Linked DNA regions of Homo sapiens: region 1 is linked to region 2. A link means that fine-mapping ties the variant in region 2 to the expression of a gene that starts in the linked region. Tissue or cell type: whole blood. Region 2 holds a variant in brackets; the other region holds the start of a gene. All regions are shown on one strand. Distances are from middle to middle.

Evidence for each region. PIP is the estimated chance that this variant, and not a neighbour inherited with it, causes the effect.
Region 1: TRAP1 starts here. The variant in region 2 is fine-mapped to the expression of TRAP1 in whole blood (INTERVAL, PIP above 0.99).

What each region holds. Positions count from the first base shown.
Region 1 is chr16:3,712,895-3,721,073 of GRCh38, forward strand. It overlaps TRAP1 (TNF receptor associated protein 1), which reads right to left and starts at 4,630. Exons shown (of 18, transcript NM_016292.3): 1 at 4,527-4,630. The coding sequence starts at 4,614. RefSeq lists an enhancer at 868-1,376 and silencers at 4,231-4,350, 4,371-4,980.
Region 2 is chr16:3,423,597-3,431,775 of GRCh38, forward strand. No RefSeq gene overlaps it. Among named protein-coding and RNA genes, the nearest start is that of ZNF597, 16 kb to the right of the region's middle. RefSeq lists enhancers at 7,855-8,179, 8,123-8,179. The variant C/A (reference allele first, on the strand shown) is at 4,608.

The DNA.
Region 1 (8,179 bases), 290 kb after region 2:
CGAGAGCCACCGCGCCCGGCCTGATGTGTTCTTTTTCAGGCACTCAGATAACTCAGTTCCCTTGGTCCTAACTAAGCTGAAGGTCCTCCTGGTGGCCTTGGACAGCTGGGCCACACCTTCCTCTGCCGTCTAAGTGCCAGCACCACAGCTTAATCAGACGACAAACATGTCATGGACGCTACACCTCTAGCGTCATCTCAGCAACACAAAGAGCTGTTTCACAGACAGAGTCGCAACTGACCAGCAAGTACTACTCCCCTCCACTCTGAAAAGAACAGCCGGAGAGCACCAGAAATTCACCTGAATTCTCCTGAAGGGTGCAGCACACAAGACACGGAAATCAAACAGCACAGGCTCCAAACAAAGGGAGAGCAGAGGGAGGAGGCAAAACCCGTCAACAAAACGAAGTACTGAAGGGGAGGGCGCAGCAGGCAGGCACCACCTACAGGAGCGGGGTCCAGGTGAGGCTCTTTTTGGAAGATGAAACAAACTAGCTAGTACTTGAGCCCTGAGCAAAGTGAGGAAACCAGCTCTCCCGACCTTCCTGGTGCTGGCAGGGGACCTACTCTCACAACTCTGATTTCCAAGACAGGAAGTTCCAGCAAAGGCTCCAGCTTACAGAGAACAAAAAGGCCCAAGATCTTAACGCCTGCACCAACCAGTCCTATCGTGGTTGCCTCAGTCATGTTCTGGCAATTTCACGAAAACAAGAGCATCTGGCATGACCAGGAGACTGGACTCGGCACCCTTGGTGATTGTGGCAGTCACCTCGTCATGCAAAATGACCAACCCGTCACCGTACCTGCCTGACCACAGAATCACGTTTGCTTTGGGAGACTGCGTCTGCTGTTGATCTTTCCAGGTCTTCCCTCTCCTTTAGGAGGCGGCCTCATCCTTCTACTGGCACATCTGACACTTCTGACAGTTGGAGCTCTGACGAAAAGCTCTCATGGTGGGCCACGTGGCTGGGCTCCCCACACACCAGGCCCAGGGCTGGCTCTGTGACTGTCCTGAGGAATGCAGGATGAGGCTCCTACGCACAAGCTTATATCTGACAGAAAAGACACAACTGCTAGCCTCATTCACCATCACTCCTGCACACTCCCGCAAGTCTTTCATCAAACCAATTATTCAGAGCTATCTCCTTACCCTTGCACCTGCAGCTTTCCAGACATGGAACGTTCCTCCCTCCCCTCCAGTGAAAACAGCCTTGGACACTCGGCCCAAATCGCTCCTCATCTGTGAAACTTACCCTGGGGCAAGCAGCTCTTGTTTCTCTAATGTGCTGTCCAGGCCACCAAGATGGCCCTGGTACACTGCTCAGCAGCCACCTATGACTCCAGACAGCAGGGTCACATTTTCTTTGACGACTCGGGGGCATTGGAAATGTATTTGCTGAATAAACTGTTATGGGCAAAAATGACAAATATAAAGTCCACAAGCGGATATCCTAGCCCACCCCTCACAGAAATATTCTGAGGGTAGGCCAGGCGCAGTGGCTCACGCCTGTAATCCCAGCATTTTGGGAGGCCAAGGCTAGTGGATCATGAGGTCAGGAGTTCGAGACCACCCTGGCCAGCATAGTGAAACCCCATCTCTATTAAAAATACAAAACCTAGCTGGGTGTGGTGGCATGCGCCTGTAGTCCCAGCTACGTGGGAGGCGAAGTCAGGAGAATCACTCGAACCCAGGAGGCGGAGGGTGTGGTGAGCTGAGGTTGCACCACTGCACTCCAGCCTGGGCAACAGAGCAAGACTCCGGCTCAAAAAAAATCAAATAAGATATTCTGAGGGCAAGTGACAGGGCTGGCAGTGTCAGGGGTCAGTGAGGTCTGAAAGGGTAAGAGGGCTGAGCTCATGGGTGACTGAGGCAGCGTAGCATGGGCGAGAGGATTCCACAGACATAAGACACGCACACCTGAAGCCAGGCACATGCTACAACCTGGAAATACTTTCCCAAGAAAAGAAAAAAATTTCAAGAGGTCTGGATTTTCTACATAGGTGGATCTGCCTAAACTATTCTTTCTCCCCTGTTGCACAAGACATGTATTTTCTTAGCTAAATTCTCTCATCGTTCAATCAATCCAAACAATTTACCTTCCCATTCATCCACACAGGTGACAATGACAAGGGCACCTGCCACGCAGAAGGCTGCCAAGAACATGTTCCATTTCTTAGACTCAGGCAGAGGAATGCTTGAACCACCGCACCAGAAGATGGAGGACGAGAGGAGAGAGACAATTTTTAAGAAAAAGAGATAAAGGGCTGGGCACAGCGGCTCACGCTTGTAATCCCAGCACTTTGGGAGGCCGAAGTGGGCGGATCACGAGGTCAGGAGATCGAGACCATCCTGGCTAACAGGGTGAAACCCCGTCTCTACTAAAAATACAAAAAATTAGCCAGGCATGGTGGTGGGCGCCTAAAGTCCCAGCTACTCGGGAGGCTGAGGCAGGAGAATGGCCTGAACCCGGGAGGCGGAGCTTGCAGTGAGCCAAGATCGCGCCACTGCACTCCAGCCTGGGTGACAGAGCAAGACTCCATCTCAAAAAAAAAGAAAAAGAAAAAGAGATAAAGAAACAGAATTAAAATGTCCCTGGGCTGAAAACTGACATATTTTCCAAATGGAAGGGACAGTGCATGATACAAAGCATGAATCACAAACACCTGTGGACGCGAGACCACAAACGACAAAGAGAAAAAATCTTAACCTCCAAGGGGGAAAAAACCCGAGTCAGCTACAAAAGAAACGAGAACCAAATTAACAGAACAGTTGGCCAGGCACGGTGACACACGCCTGCAATCCCAGCATTTTGGAGGGCAAGGCAGGCAGATCACTTGAGGTCAGGCACTGGAGACCAGCCTGGCCAACATAGTGAAACCCCACCTCATAAAGACAAAAAAATAAATAAATAATTGATCAGACACTGGTGCTAGAAGAGAGCAACAGCATCACTTTCTGAGGGAAAATTATTATTATTTTTGTTGTTGAGATGAAGTCTCACTCTGTCGCCCAGGCTGGAGTGCAGTGGTGCAATCTCAGCTCACTGCAATCTCTGCCTCCTGGGTTCAAGCGATTCTCCTGCCTCAGCCTCCCAAGAAGCTGGGATTACAGGCGCGCGCCACCACACCCAGCTAATTTTTGTATTTTTAGTAGAGACAGGGTTTCACCATGTTGGCCAGGCTGGTCTTGAACTCCTGATCTGCCCACCTCAGGCTCCCAAAGTGCTAGGATTACAGGCGTGAGCCACCGCGCCCGGCCACAAGGTATCTTTTATAGACCACTGGTTTTGAAAAGACATAAGATTCAGCGTTGAAGAAAATACCTTTGGAATAGGCAGTCTTGATGCCTGCTAAAGGGGATATAAATTGATAAGGCCTTTTTGGACAATTTGGCAGTATCTGCTAACATTTCAAAAATGCATAGGCTCTGAAATATCAATTCTAAAATTCTAATTATGTAAGGCTAAAGAAATACCGCACGTGAACAAATATTTAAGTACTCACCCATTCTATGCAGCATTGTAATAAAAAGTAAAACCTGAAATAACCTTTATTGCGTCCACTAATAGGACAATGTTTAAACAAATGACACGTCCATCATACAGAATACTGTGTGGTCACTGGAAGGCACATGGACCTGTATACACTGACATGAAAAGATGTGGAAAGAATGCTGGGAGCGTTAAAATTTTCTGAAGTACAACGTAGCACAATGCATACATGGTTTAGGCTTTTTAGAATAAAAAATACTTATACGCAGACATTTATATTTACACGTATAACACTGTGTACAGCCCCGAAGCAATGCCGAAACTTTCACTGTTGTTACCTCCGAGTGGGGACTGGGAAAGCAGAGGTTAGGGTCGTTCTCTCTGTTTTACAAACATTTATTGGCGCATCCATCAATTCCAGGCCCCGAGGACACAGCTGCGTCAACGACATCGAGTCCACCTGCTCTGGGGACCCGGATGACTGCTATAGGTTTTGTTCACTGTGGCGTCCCCAGAACCTGCACGGCGCCGGGCACTGAGCGGGCGCTCACATGTGCGTCCAATGAACGAATTAACAAATGAACCCTCAGTGCGCTACTGGGAGGCGGGGAGGGGTAAAGCACGATCCATGGAACTAGCACGATCACCCCGAGTGAGTCCATTCCCCGCAACATGCACCCGCAAAGACTCCGCGCTCCGCAGCGGCTCCACCTGCACGTGCGCTACCTGACTGGACCGAAGCTCCAGGAGGGACGACCCCGCAGCCGCTCCGCCCGACCCCGCGACCCCCCAAGACCCAGCCTCCTTCAGGGCTCCCATGGGCGGGTGGCGAGGGGAGTCCAGCCGAGGAAAAGGCAGCCAAGCTGGAGCTGGCGAGGAGCGGAGCGAAAGTAAACGCGTCTGCCGCGCTTGGCCTCGCCGGACCTCCCACGCCTGTGAAGCAGGTGCCGGCGCCTCGCTCCCCGGAGCACAGGGACGTCCCTGCCGTCTCCGTGGCCCGGCCCGCCCGCTGCCCGTCCAGCCAGGACGCCCTCACCTCCCGGCACGGCCGCCAGCGCCGGCGCCCGCAGCAAAGGCCGCAGGCGGCGGCCCCACAGCAGCAGCGCCCGCAGCTCGCGCGCCATGTCGTACTCCCAGAGCGCCGCGCGCAGCCACGCGGGACCGTACACGATGGGAAGGGGCGGGACGGGGCTGCGCGGGGCGGGGCTTCCTCGGGCGCGGGGCGGTGACGTCACGGCGGGCGCCGGGCTGTCCGGGCAGCTGCCTGCTCGGGCGCGTGGCGGGGTACTACCCGTCTCGTGGACGGTCGGGCCTGGGGGTGGGACCTCCGTGACCTTGGATCGCGTTGTCAAGGGCGACGGGCCTTGCGCGCGGAGGTGGGGGAGGTGGCCCCGCCGCCCCCGGCCCACGCTGGCCGGCTGCGCCTAGCTGTGCGCATTCCTGGAATGGGGCGGATGTCAGTATCCACGCGAGGGTGTGGAGGCGACGCTGGGGAAGAAGCAGTTCCCGTGTCTGCGACCTTTGTGAATCCCGGCCATCCGTCTAGGCCGCTGCAAGTCTCTTGCAAACCAAGACTGGACAAAAAGCTAAAGCGAATGAGGAAGGGGATTCCAGGCTTGACTGGCTACTACTCCAAAACCTGAACCCAGTGACCAATACCACCAGGAAAACTGCGGTTATTCGTTTATTCCACTTCTCTTGTCCTTGTCGAGAAGAGTCAAACTCTAAAGTATTTAGAAGGTTATTCTGAGCCAAATATGAGTGTGCATGGAGGGAGGCACAGTCTCAAAAGGTCCTGAGAACTTGGCCCAAGGTGCTTGGGTTACAGCTTGCTTGGTTTTATACATTTTAGAGAGACATAAGACATCAGTCAATGCATGTAAGACATAGGTTGGTTCCGTGTGGAAAGGCAGGACAACTCAAAGGGTGAAATACTTAGAGGTCATAGGTGGATTCAGATACTTTCTGATTGGCAATTGGTTAAAAGAGTTGAGTTCTGGTTGGGCGCGGTGGCTCACGCCTGTAATCCTAGCACTTTGGGAGGCTGAGGTGGGCGGACTGCCTGCGGTCAGGAGTCCGAGACCAGCCTGGCCAACATGGTGAAAACCCATCATCTCTACTAAGATACAAAAAATTAGCTGGGCAAGGTGGCACGTGCCTGTAGTCCCAGCTCCTGGGGAGGCTGAGGCGGAAGAATAGCGTGAACCCGGGAGGCTGCGGTTGCAGTGAGCCGAGATCGTGCCACTTGCACTGCAGCCTGGGCGACAGAGCTGTGACTCCGTCTCAAAAAAAAAAAAAAAAGAAAACAAAAAAAAGAAAAAAAAGAGTTGAGTTATACAGACCTGGAATCAATAAAAAGAGTGTCTGGGTGAAGATAAGGGGTTGTGGGCACGAGCACGGTGACTCACACCTGTAATCCCAACACTTTGGGATGCCGAGGTGGGCGAATTGCTTGAGGTCAGGAGTTGGAGAGCAGCGTGGGCAACATGGTGAGACCCTGTCTGTACCAAACATACCTGTACCGGATGTGGTGGCGGAGGCCTGTAATCCCAGCTACAAGGGAGGCTGAGGTGGGTGGATTGCTTAAGCCCAGGAGGGAGAGGTTGCAGTGAGCCAAGTTCGTGCCATTGAACTCCAGCTTGGGCAAGAGAGCCACACCCTGTCTCAAAACAAACAAACAAACAAACAAACAAAAAACAGGTTGTGAAGACCAAGGTTCTTATTATGTAGAGGAAGTCTCATAGATGACCACCCTTACAGGTAATAGATGGCAAATGTTTTCGCAAATATTGTTTATTCAGACCGTTAAAAATTCCTAGACCCTCAGGATCAGGAAAAGACCTGCAAAGGTGGCCTGGCATGGTGGCTTACGCATGTAATTCCAGCACTTTAGGAGGCCAAGGTGGTCTTATCACTTGAGGTCAGGAGGTTGAGACCAGCCTGGTCGGCATGGCAAAACCCCATCTCTACTAAAAATACAAAAATTAGGCCAAGAGCAGTGGCTCACGCCTGTAATCCTAGCACTTTGGGAGGCTGAGGCGGGCAGATCACCTGAGGTCGGGAGTTCGAGACCAGCGTGACTGACAGGGAGAAACTCCGTCTCTACTAAAAATACAAAAAATCAGTCAGGCGTGGTGGCGCATGCCTGTAATCCCAGCTACGCAGGAGGTTAAGGCAGGAGAATCGCTGGAACCCAGGAGGTGAAGGTTGCAGTGAGCTGATACCGCACCATTGCACTCCAGCCTGGGCAACAAGAGTGAAAGTCTGTCTCAAAAACAAAAAAAATTACCTGGGTGTGGTGGTGTGCACCTGTGTACAGCTGAGGCTACTCGGGAGGCTGAAGCAGGGGAATCGCTTGAACCCAGGAGGCAGAGATTGCAGTGAGCCAAGATCGCACCACTGCACTCCCACTCCAGCCTGGGCAACAGAACAAGATTCCGTCTCAAAAAAAAAAAAAAGTCCTTTGTAATGTTAACGCTGGTCAGTTGTGCCTCATTTCCAAGGGGTGGAGGGTGTAATGAGGCAGGACCCACCCCATCCTTCCAATTATGGCCTGAACTAGTTTTTTAGGTTTCTTTGAAATCCCCTTGGTGGAGAGGAATGATCCATTCCATGGGTTGGGGGACTTATAATGTGTTTTTGCCGGCTGGGCACGGTGGCTCACGCCTGTAATCCCAGTACTTTGGGAGGCCGAGGCAGGCGGATCACCTGATGTTGGGAGTTCAAGACCAGCCTGACCAACATGGAGAAACCCTGTCTCCACTAAAAATACAAAATTAGCCGGGCATGGCGGCACATGCCTATAATCCCAGCTACTCGGGAGGCTGAGGCAGGAGAATCGCTTGAACCCGGGAGGCAGAGGTTGCAGTGAGCTGAGATCGTGCCACTGCACTCCAGCCTGGGCAACAGAGTGAGACTCTATCTCAAAAAACAACAGCAAAAAAAGAATTTGTTTTTGCTTTACACCTTGCTGGAGGTTAGAGACTAGTTGGAGATTCAGACCATACACCCTGGTCTAACATTTGGTCCAGACCCAGCTGCAGCCTCATAATGCCGATTTCCCGGCACCTCCTCAGTCCCGGAGTGGGGCCCAGGCGGCTCCACTGAGGTTCCCAGGTAATTCGGAGGCACACTGAAGATTCACTGCCACACTCTAATAACTGTACAAAAATAGCGACTCCAGCTCGTGGCACGTGCTGCAGAGAAGCACAGGAGCCAGGAGAGTGACCTTCAGTGGGGCCGGGACAGAGCTGGGTGGAAGAGGATGTGTCAGGAAACGCTTCCAGGTGGAAAGTGGCAAGTTCCCAGCTTAAGCAATTGAGAAGGGAATGGAAAGAGGGTGGGCAGATTTGGGTGGAAGAGCAGGGTCCTGTCACCCAGACCACTCCAGCAGCCCTGACAGGCCCCCTGCTTCCGCTCTTGCCAGCCTCCCATCCTCCACAGCAGCCGGATCATACTCCGTCTCTCAGATCCTCCAGTGGTCCCCCTACCAACACACATGCACATATTTACAATCCTTTCCAAACTCCTTCTGCCTCCTCCTATAGGCCTGCATGGGCCTGCCTGTGTTCCCTATCACCACACTCCAGGCAGAGCCCTTTCCAGCATGTCCTCAGGGAATGGGGGTGGGTGGGGGGTGTCTCGGCTTCACATTTCATCCCTTTTTCGCTCCATTCAGGAAATCATCTC
Region 2 (8,179 bases):
AGTCCTTCTGTCCCTTTCTCTTGCTGTTTTCTTTTGTATTTCACTGTTTTTTTTTTTTTTTTTTTTTTGAGATGGAGTCTTGCTCTGTCACCCAGGCTGGAGGGCAATGGCACAATCTCGGCTCACTGCAACCTTCGCCTTCTGGTTCAAGCAATTCTCCTGCCTCAGCCTTCCAAGTAGCTGGGATTACAAGTGTGCAGCACCACACCTGGCTAATTTTTCTATTTTTAGTAGAGATGGGGTTTTGCCATGTTGGACAGGCTAGTCTCGAACTCCTGGCCTATGTTTTCATTATTTTCTCCTTTTCTTTAATTCTATAGGCATTTTCTTTGTAGTTACCAAGTGTTTACATAAAATCTCTTATAATAGTCTACTTTAAGCTGATAACAACTTAACTTCCCTTGCATGTCAGAACTTTGCTTTTATCTCTCTTCCCCTGGCTTATATGCTATTGATATCACCACTAACACCTATTTATATTGTACCAATTAACATAATATAGTTGTTTTACTACTTTTGTCTTTTAACTTTTATAAGAGAACTAAAATTGATTTACCCACTACTGTTATAGTAATACACTATTGGTTTTGACTATATATTTACCTTTGCCAATGAGTTTCATACTTCGTGTGCTCCTGTTACTGTTTTCCATACTTTTGTTTTAACCTTAAGAACTCTCTTTAGCATTTCTTATAAGGCAGGTCTAGTGGTGATAATCTCCCTCAGCTTTTGTTTGAGAAAGTCTTTATTTCCCTCTCATTTTTGAAGTATGGGTTTGTTGGATATAGCATTCTTGACTGGAAGTTTTTTTCTTTCAGCACTTTGTATCTATTGTCCCACTCCTTTCTGGCCCACAAGGTTTATGCTGGAAACTCTGTTAATAGTTTTATTAGGGGACCCTTGTACACAGAAGTTGCTTTTCCCTTGGCTGCTTTCAAAATTCTGTCTCTAACTTTTGACAATTTGATTGTAATGTATGTCAGTGTGGATCTCTTTGGATTCATCTTATTTTTTTTTTTTTTGAGACAGTCTCGCTCTGTCGCTCAGGCTGGAGTGCTATGGCATGATCTAGGCTCACTGCAACCTCCACCTCCCAGGTTCAAGCCATTCTCCTGCCTCAGCCTCCTGAGTAGCTGGCATTACAGGCACATGCCACCGCGCGCGGCTAATTTTTATATTTTTAGCAGAGACGGGGTTTCACCATGTTGGCCAGGCTGGTCTCGAACTCCTGACCTCAAGTGATCCACCTGCCTCGGCCTCCCAAAGGGCTGGGATTACAGGCATGAGCCACCGCACCTGGCAGGATTCATCTTATTTCATGTCCCTTGGACTTCTTGGGTCTTGATTTCTATTTCATTCCCCAGTTTTGGAAGGGTTTCAGCCACTGTTTGTTTGAATATGCTTTCTGTCCGTTTTGCTCTCTCTGCCTTCTGAAAATCCACTAATGCATACATTAGTCTACTCGATGGTGTCCCTTAAGTACCTTAATCTATCCTCACTCTTTCTTTTTTTCTCATTTTTGCCCCTCTGGTTGGATAATTTCCAATGGCTGGTCTTCAAATTCACTGACTCTTTTTTCTGCTTGACCTAGTCTGTGAGTGAAACCCTCTAGAGAATTTTTCAGATGAGTTATTATGTACTTCAGATCTATAACTTCTGTTTGGTATGTTTTTAAATTTTCTCCTTTTTCTGAGACAGGGTCTCACTCAGTCACCCAGGCTGGAGTGCAGTGGTGTGATAACAGCTCACTGCAGCCTTGGCATCCCAGGCTGAAGTGATCCTCCCACCTCAGCCCCCAGAGGAGCTGGGACCACAGGCGTATGCCACCATGCCAGGCTAATTTTTAATTTTTTGTAGACATGGGGTCTTACTATGTAAACCAGGCTGGTCTTGAACTCCTAACCTCAAGCAATCCTCCCACCTTGGCCTCCCAAAGTGCTGGGATGACAGTGTGAGCCACCATGCCAACCCTTGTTTTTGTATTTTCTCTTTGTTGAAAGTCTCGGTTTGTTCATACATTATACTCCTGACATCAGTGAGCATATTTATGATTATTTTTAATTCTCTTTTTTTTTTTTTGAGAGGACGTTTTGCTCTGTTGCCTAGGCTGGAGTGCAATGACACGATCTTGGTTCACTGCAACCTCCACCTCCCAGGTTCAAGCGATTCTCCTGTCTCAGCCTTCCGAGTAGCTGGGATTACAGGTGCCCGCCACCACGCCTGGCTGATTTCTGTATTTTTAGTAGAGATGAGGTTTCACCATGTTGGCCAGGCTAGTCTCGAACATCTGACCTCAGGTGATCCACCCGCCTCGGTCTCCCACAGTGCTAGGATTACAGGCATGAGCCACTGCACCCAGCCTATTTTTAATTCTCTAATAGGTAAAATCACTGATCTGTATTTCATTGGAATTGGTTTCTGGAGATTTCTTCATCTTTTGTTTGGAACGTATTTTCTATTTCTTGATTTTTTTGTTGACTGTGTTGATTTTCATGCATTAGATAAGACAACTCTCTTTCCAAGTCTTAATATCTGATTTTTCGTAGGAGATGAACCTCACCAATCAACCCAACCAGATTCTAGGCACCTCTCAAACTTTTGTGCTTGTACAAACTGCTGTCTTTGTTCTTAGTAGCCCCAAGAGATTGGGGTGCACCAAATGCCATCAGTGCCCCAAGACTGGTGATATTGAAGCCAGTTACTGAAATTTAGCTAGAAAAGTTGGGGTGTTATATGTGTTCCAGTTCCTTCTATCCTCAAGGAGAAGCTGGGAACTGGTGTTGATCTCCCACTTGCCCTGTACTAAGCTGGGGAGATAATCCCAAGCAAATGCCTGCATTCTCATTCAGACCACATACTCTTTCAACCCATTGCCTAATGTGTTGTTACCCCCAGGGGCCTAGTCAATTGCAGCTCCCATCTACTGTCCAGGACAGATGGATTGTTCAGAGGCTTGGCTCCATCTCTAGAGTGAGCCTGCAAAAGGAATTGCGGGAAGCAACTGCATGCCCATTCAGGCTCCCAGAGGACTACTTATTGCCTGCCCTGTCAGTGCCCAGATATAGGCTAGAGGCCTGACTCATGGACAGCGGCTGGGAAAGTTGGGACGTTAGGTGTGCAGTCAAACCCCTTCCTGGGGGTAAACTGGGAACTGGGTGTTTTTGTCTGCTCGCTTTGTACTGAGTTAGGGGAAACGGATGCTAGAACTGCTCAAACACTCTTTTAAAATCACTTTTCTTCTCTGTAGTCTAGGGGGACTTGTGAATGCAGTCTTATCAATTCCCAGAGACAGATGATTTAGGAGCTTAGAAGCTGGTCCCTTGGGTGGAAGCTGTAAAAGTTGGGGTACACTGTCCAGGAAGAAGCTAGAAGCCTAGTTTTTTTTTGTTTTGTTGTTTTATTTTTGAGACAGAGTCTCACTCTGTCACCCAGGCAGAAGTAGAGTGGCACAATCTCAGCTCACTGCCACCTCTGCCTCCTGAGTTCAAGCCATTCTCCTGCCTCAGCCTCCGGAGTAGCTGGGATTACAGGTGCACCTCCCTGACAACCCCCAACCATGCCCAGGTAACTTTTTGTATTTTTTAACAGAGAGAGGGTTTCACCATGTTGACCAGGCTGGTCTTGAACTCCTGACCTCCACTGATCCACCTGCCTTGGCCACCCAAAGTGCTGGGATTACAGGGGTGAGCCACCGTGCCTGGCCCCTAGTTTTATCTCTGAATGGAGTAGTGGCAGAGGGGAGAACGACAGTGAAGTTCCCACATGCCTGTTCATGCTCCTGGAGGTCTATTGTTTACCAGCCCTATCAGCTACTCGATGTAGGCTACTTAGAAGCCCAGCGTTCAGGCAGCAGTTGGGAAAAATGTGTAGATAAATCCCTTTTAGGGAGACTGTGGAACTGCTTTTTTAAATTCTTTTGTTTCTTTTCTTTTTTTTTAGAGACAGGGTCTCACTCTGCCACCTAGGCTGTAACGCAGTGGCTCCATCATAGCTCAGTGCAACCCTGAATCTTGGGCTCAAGCGATCATCCTGCCTCAGCATCCTGAGTAGCTAGGACTATAGGCATATGTCACCACACCTGGCTAATTAAAAAAAATTTTTTTTTGTTTTGGTAGAGGCAGGGTGTTTGTATGTTCCCCAGGCTGTTTTCAAACTCCTGGCCTCAAGTGATCCTCTGCCTCAGCATCTCAAAGCACTGGGATTACAGGCATGAGCCATGGTGCCCAGCAGATGGTGCATTTCTGCCTGCTTGCTCTGCACTGACCCTGGGGGACAGCCGCTGAAAGTGCTCACATACCTGTTTAAAATGTCCTCTTATGGCTGGGCATGGTGGCTCACACCTGTAATCCCAGCACTTTGGGAGGCTGAGGCGGGTGGATCACAAGATCAGGAGATCGAGACCATCCTAACACTGTGAAACCCCATCTCTACTAAAAATACAAAAAATTAGCCAGGCATGGTGGCAAGTGCCTGTAGTCCCAGCTACTCGAGAGGCTGAGGCAGGAGAATCGCTTGAACCCAGGAGGCAGAGGTTGCAGTGAGTTGAGATTGCGCCACTGCACTCCAACCTGGGCAACAGAGAGAGACTCTGTCTCAAAAAAAACAAA[C/A]AAACAAAAAAAAAAAACCCCACAAAATTAGCTGGGCATGGTGGTGTGCGCCTGTAATCCCGCCTACTCTATAGCCTAAGGCAGGAGAATCGCTTGAGCCCAGGAGGCGGAAGTTGCAGTAAGCCAATATTGTGCCATTGCACTACAACCTGGGTGAAAAAAGCAAAACTCTGTCTCTAAATAAATAAATAAATAAATAAATAAATAAAATGTCCTTTTTTCTCAGGGGACTCACAAATACTAAACCCTGCCATTCCCGGGATAAGAAGATTTAGGAGCCAAACTCTCACGTGGAAACTGTTTAAGTTTGGGAGCGATATGTCTGGCCTCAACCCTTCATTCTTCAAAAATCTGGTATTTCGGGATTCCTTCCCAATTGTAAGATACTGTGCCCAGGTTTTTGGTTTACATTGTGTCTCAATTTGTTGGTATCCATTTTGATGTGGATATATTATCAGTTGCCAGTGTGTGGGAGTCTCAACTAGTTTCTATATTTCTCTCAGAGAGAACTGATCCATGTGTAGATACTTATTCAGTGCATCCATGGAAGGAAAGAAAGTCAGGAGTCTCCCATTCTGTATCTTGTTGATGCCCAATCAGTGAAATGAAACTTTTTTTTTGGGCAGGGAGGGAGTTCTCATTCTGTCACCCAGGGTGAGTACGGTGGAACAATCACAGCTCACTACAGCCTCCACCCAGGCTCAAGTGATCCTATCACCTTAGCCTCCTGAGTAGCTGGGACTACAGGCATGTGCCACTACGCCCGGCTTTTTTTTTTTTTTTTTCAGACAGAGTCTCCCTTTGTCCCCCAGGCTGGAGTGCAGTGGCGCGATCTTGGCTCACTGCAACCTCCACCTCCTGGGTTCAAGCAATTCTCCTGTGTCAGCCTCCCAAGTAGCTGGGACTACAGGTGCGTGCCACCATGACCAGCTATTTTTGTTTTGTATTTTTAGTAGAGATGGGGTTTCACCATGTTGGCCAGGATGGTCTCAATCTCTTGACCCCGTGATCTGCCTGCCTTGGTCTCCCAAAGGGCTGGGATTACAGGCGTGAGCCACTGTGCCCGGCCTAATTTTTAAATTTTTGGTAGAGATGGGTCTTATTATGTTGCCCAGGCTGGTCTGGAACTTCTGGCCTCAAGTAATCCTCCTGCCTTGACCTCCCAAAGTGCTGGGATTACAGGTGTGAGCCACTGCACCGGCCATCTTTGCTAAATTATTACCTTCAAGCCTATAAGGTATCATTATATATTTATCCTGGAAGCTTTCTTAGTTTTTTTCTAAACTCCTTACAGCTTCTTTGGGTACACTGTTACACCTCTTGCCTACTAGTAAGTGACAGCACCAGTATCTATTCTCCTTTCTTTTTTTTTTTTTTTTTGACAAAGTCTCACTCTGTTGCCCAGGCTGGAGTGCAGTGGCACAATCTCGGCTCACTGCAACTTCCGCCTCCTGGGTTCAAGCGATTCTCCTGCCTCAGCCTCCCAACTAGCTGCGACTACAGATGCGCACCACCATGCCCGGCTAATTTTTGTATTTTTTTTAGTAGAGATGGGGTTTCACCATATTGGCCAGGCTGGTCTCGAACTCCTGACCTCGTAATCTGCCCACCTCGGCCTCCCAAAGTGCTGGGATCACAGGCATGAGCCACTGCACCCGGCCCTCTGTCAGTCTTTAAGCTGAAACCAATGGTATAAAAGTGACAGAGCCGTAGTAGTTTCAATCAGTGCATAATTTTAAGCATCTACCATGTTCCTGGTCTCTCCTCCCATGGAGACAATGAAATTTTATTAGTTACATAATTAATATTCAATTACAAGCATATTGCTATAAGGAGGGTAAAACAAAGAATGTAGGAATTGAAAGGGATGTTCCAAGTAAAAGGAAAAGTATGTGCACAATTCTCAAAGAGCTTGGTATGTTTGATGAATTGAGAGAAAGTGTAGCTGGAGAGGGGTAAGAGAAAAAGAACAGCTGGAGTTGACACTGGCAGGGAAGTAATGACTAGGAAGGTCATGTTGAAAATTTAAATGTCCCTAAGGACAATGGGAAGCCAATGGAAGGTGTCAAATTGGATGATGAAATCATCATAATCATCTGGTACCTGGCCCTCTAGTTCTGTGCAGCAAAGACTGGAAAGATGAACATCTAGTGTTGTCTTCCCGCAATAATGCTGGAATTTTCTGCTGAGTTTCAGGGAGCAAACATTTTTTAATACTTCTTTTATTAAATGGCAGTGTGTTAGCTGTGTTGACAGAGAACAAGTGTGATATGAAAGTCATCAGCGGGCTCTTTCAGGTAACCCAGGTGAGTACTGTTGGATAGGATGGGGACAGGGGAGACAGAAACATTCAGGTTTTGGTGATACTTTTGAGGTAGAATCCATGAGACTTGATGATTGAGTGGATGTGATGTCTTAGTCTGTTCTGGCTTCTATAAAAAGTTACCATAAGCCAGGTAGTTTATAAACAACAGAAATTTTTTTCTCATAGTTCTAGAGGCTAGGAAACCCAGATCAAGGTGCTGGCAGATTCATTGTCTGGTGAGGGCCATTTCCACAATGGCACCTTCTTGCTGGGTCCTCACAGGCTCGAGTACAGTGGGCCAATCATAGTTCACTGTAACCTCAACTTCCTGGGCTCAAGCAATCCTCCTGCCTCAGCCTCCCAAGTAGCTAGGACTACAAGCACCAGCCACCACACCGGGCTAAATAAATTTTTTGAAAAGATGGCGTGTCGCTATGTTTCCCAGGCCGGTCTTGAACTCCTGGCTTTAAGCAATTCTCACACCTTGGCCTCCCAAAGCACTGGGATTACAGACGTAAGCCACCACACCCGGCCTGCAGTCTCTTTTATAAGGACACTAATCCCAATCATGAGGGGTCTGCCAAAGTCCCCACCTCCTAATAACATCAGTTTAAGTGTTAGAATTCCAACACATGAATTTTTAGGGTACACAAATATTCAAGCCATAGCAAGAGGAAAGAGGGAGTGTTTGTTGATAGCATGAGCAATTGTATGGATGTGGCCCCACATACTGGAGGCAAACAGATCAGGGGCTAAAAGCATGAGTTAAGGGCATGTGTTTTGATGCCTGAGAGACATCTAAAAGACGACTCCTGTAGGCACCTGAATGTAGGAATCTGGAGTACATAGAAAAGAAATTGGAGCTAGACCTAAAATGAGGTCTTTGTAGCCATGGAAGTGGCTAAGCTCACCTGGGGAGATACCATTTACCAAAGGTAAGCCGAGGGTACATTCCAGCTAAGTAGAAGCATGTTAGAATTTGGCTGCAGAGAATGCCAAAAGCCTAAGAGATTGGTACTGGTTCTAAAGAAAAGACACTCTACCCAGCACAAGTGAGATGTACAAAGTGCCCATTTCAACAAGCCAGAGACACACGTGGTAGTCAGGCCCACAGCTCTGCATTGCCTAAGTGAGATTAGAGCTGGGACGGTGGCCCGGAGCTGCTTCTCCAGTCCTAACGCCTAGAATCATGGGATGGAGATTCGTGTTAGTGCCCGACAGTCACACCCATGATACCCTCCTGCTGATGCGGAGGAAGAGACCTGAG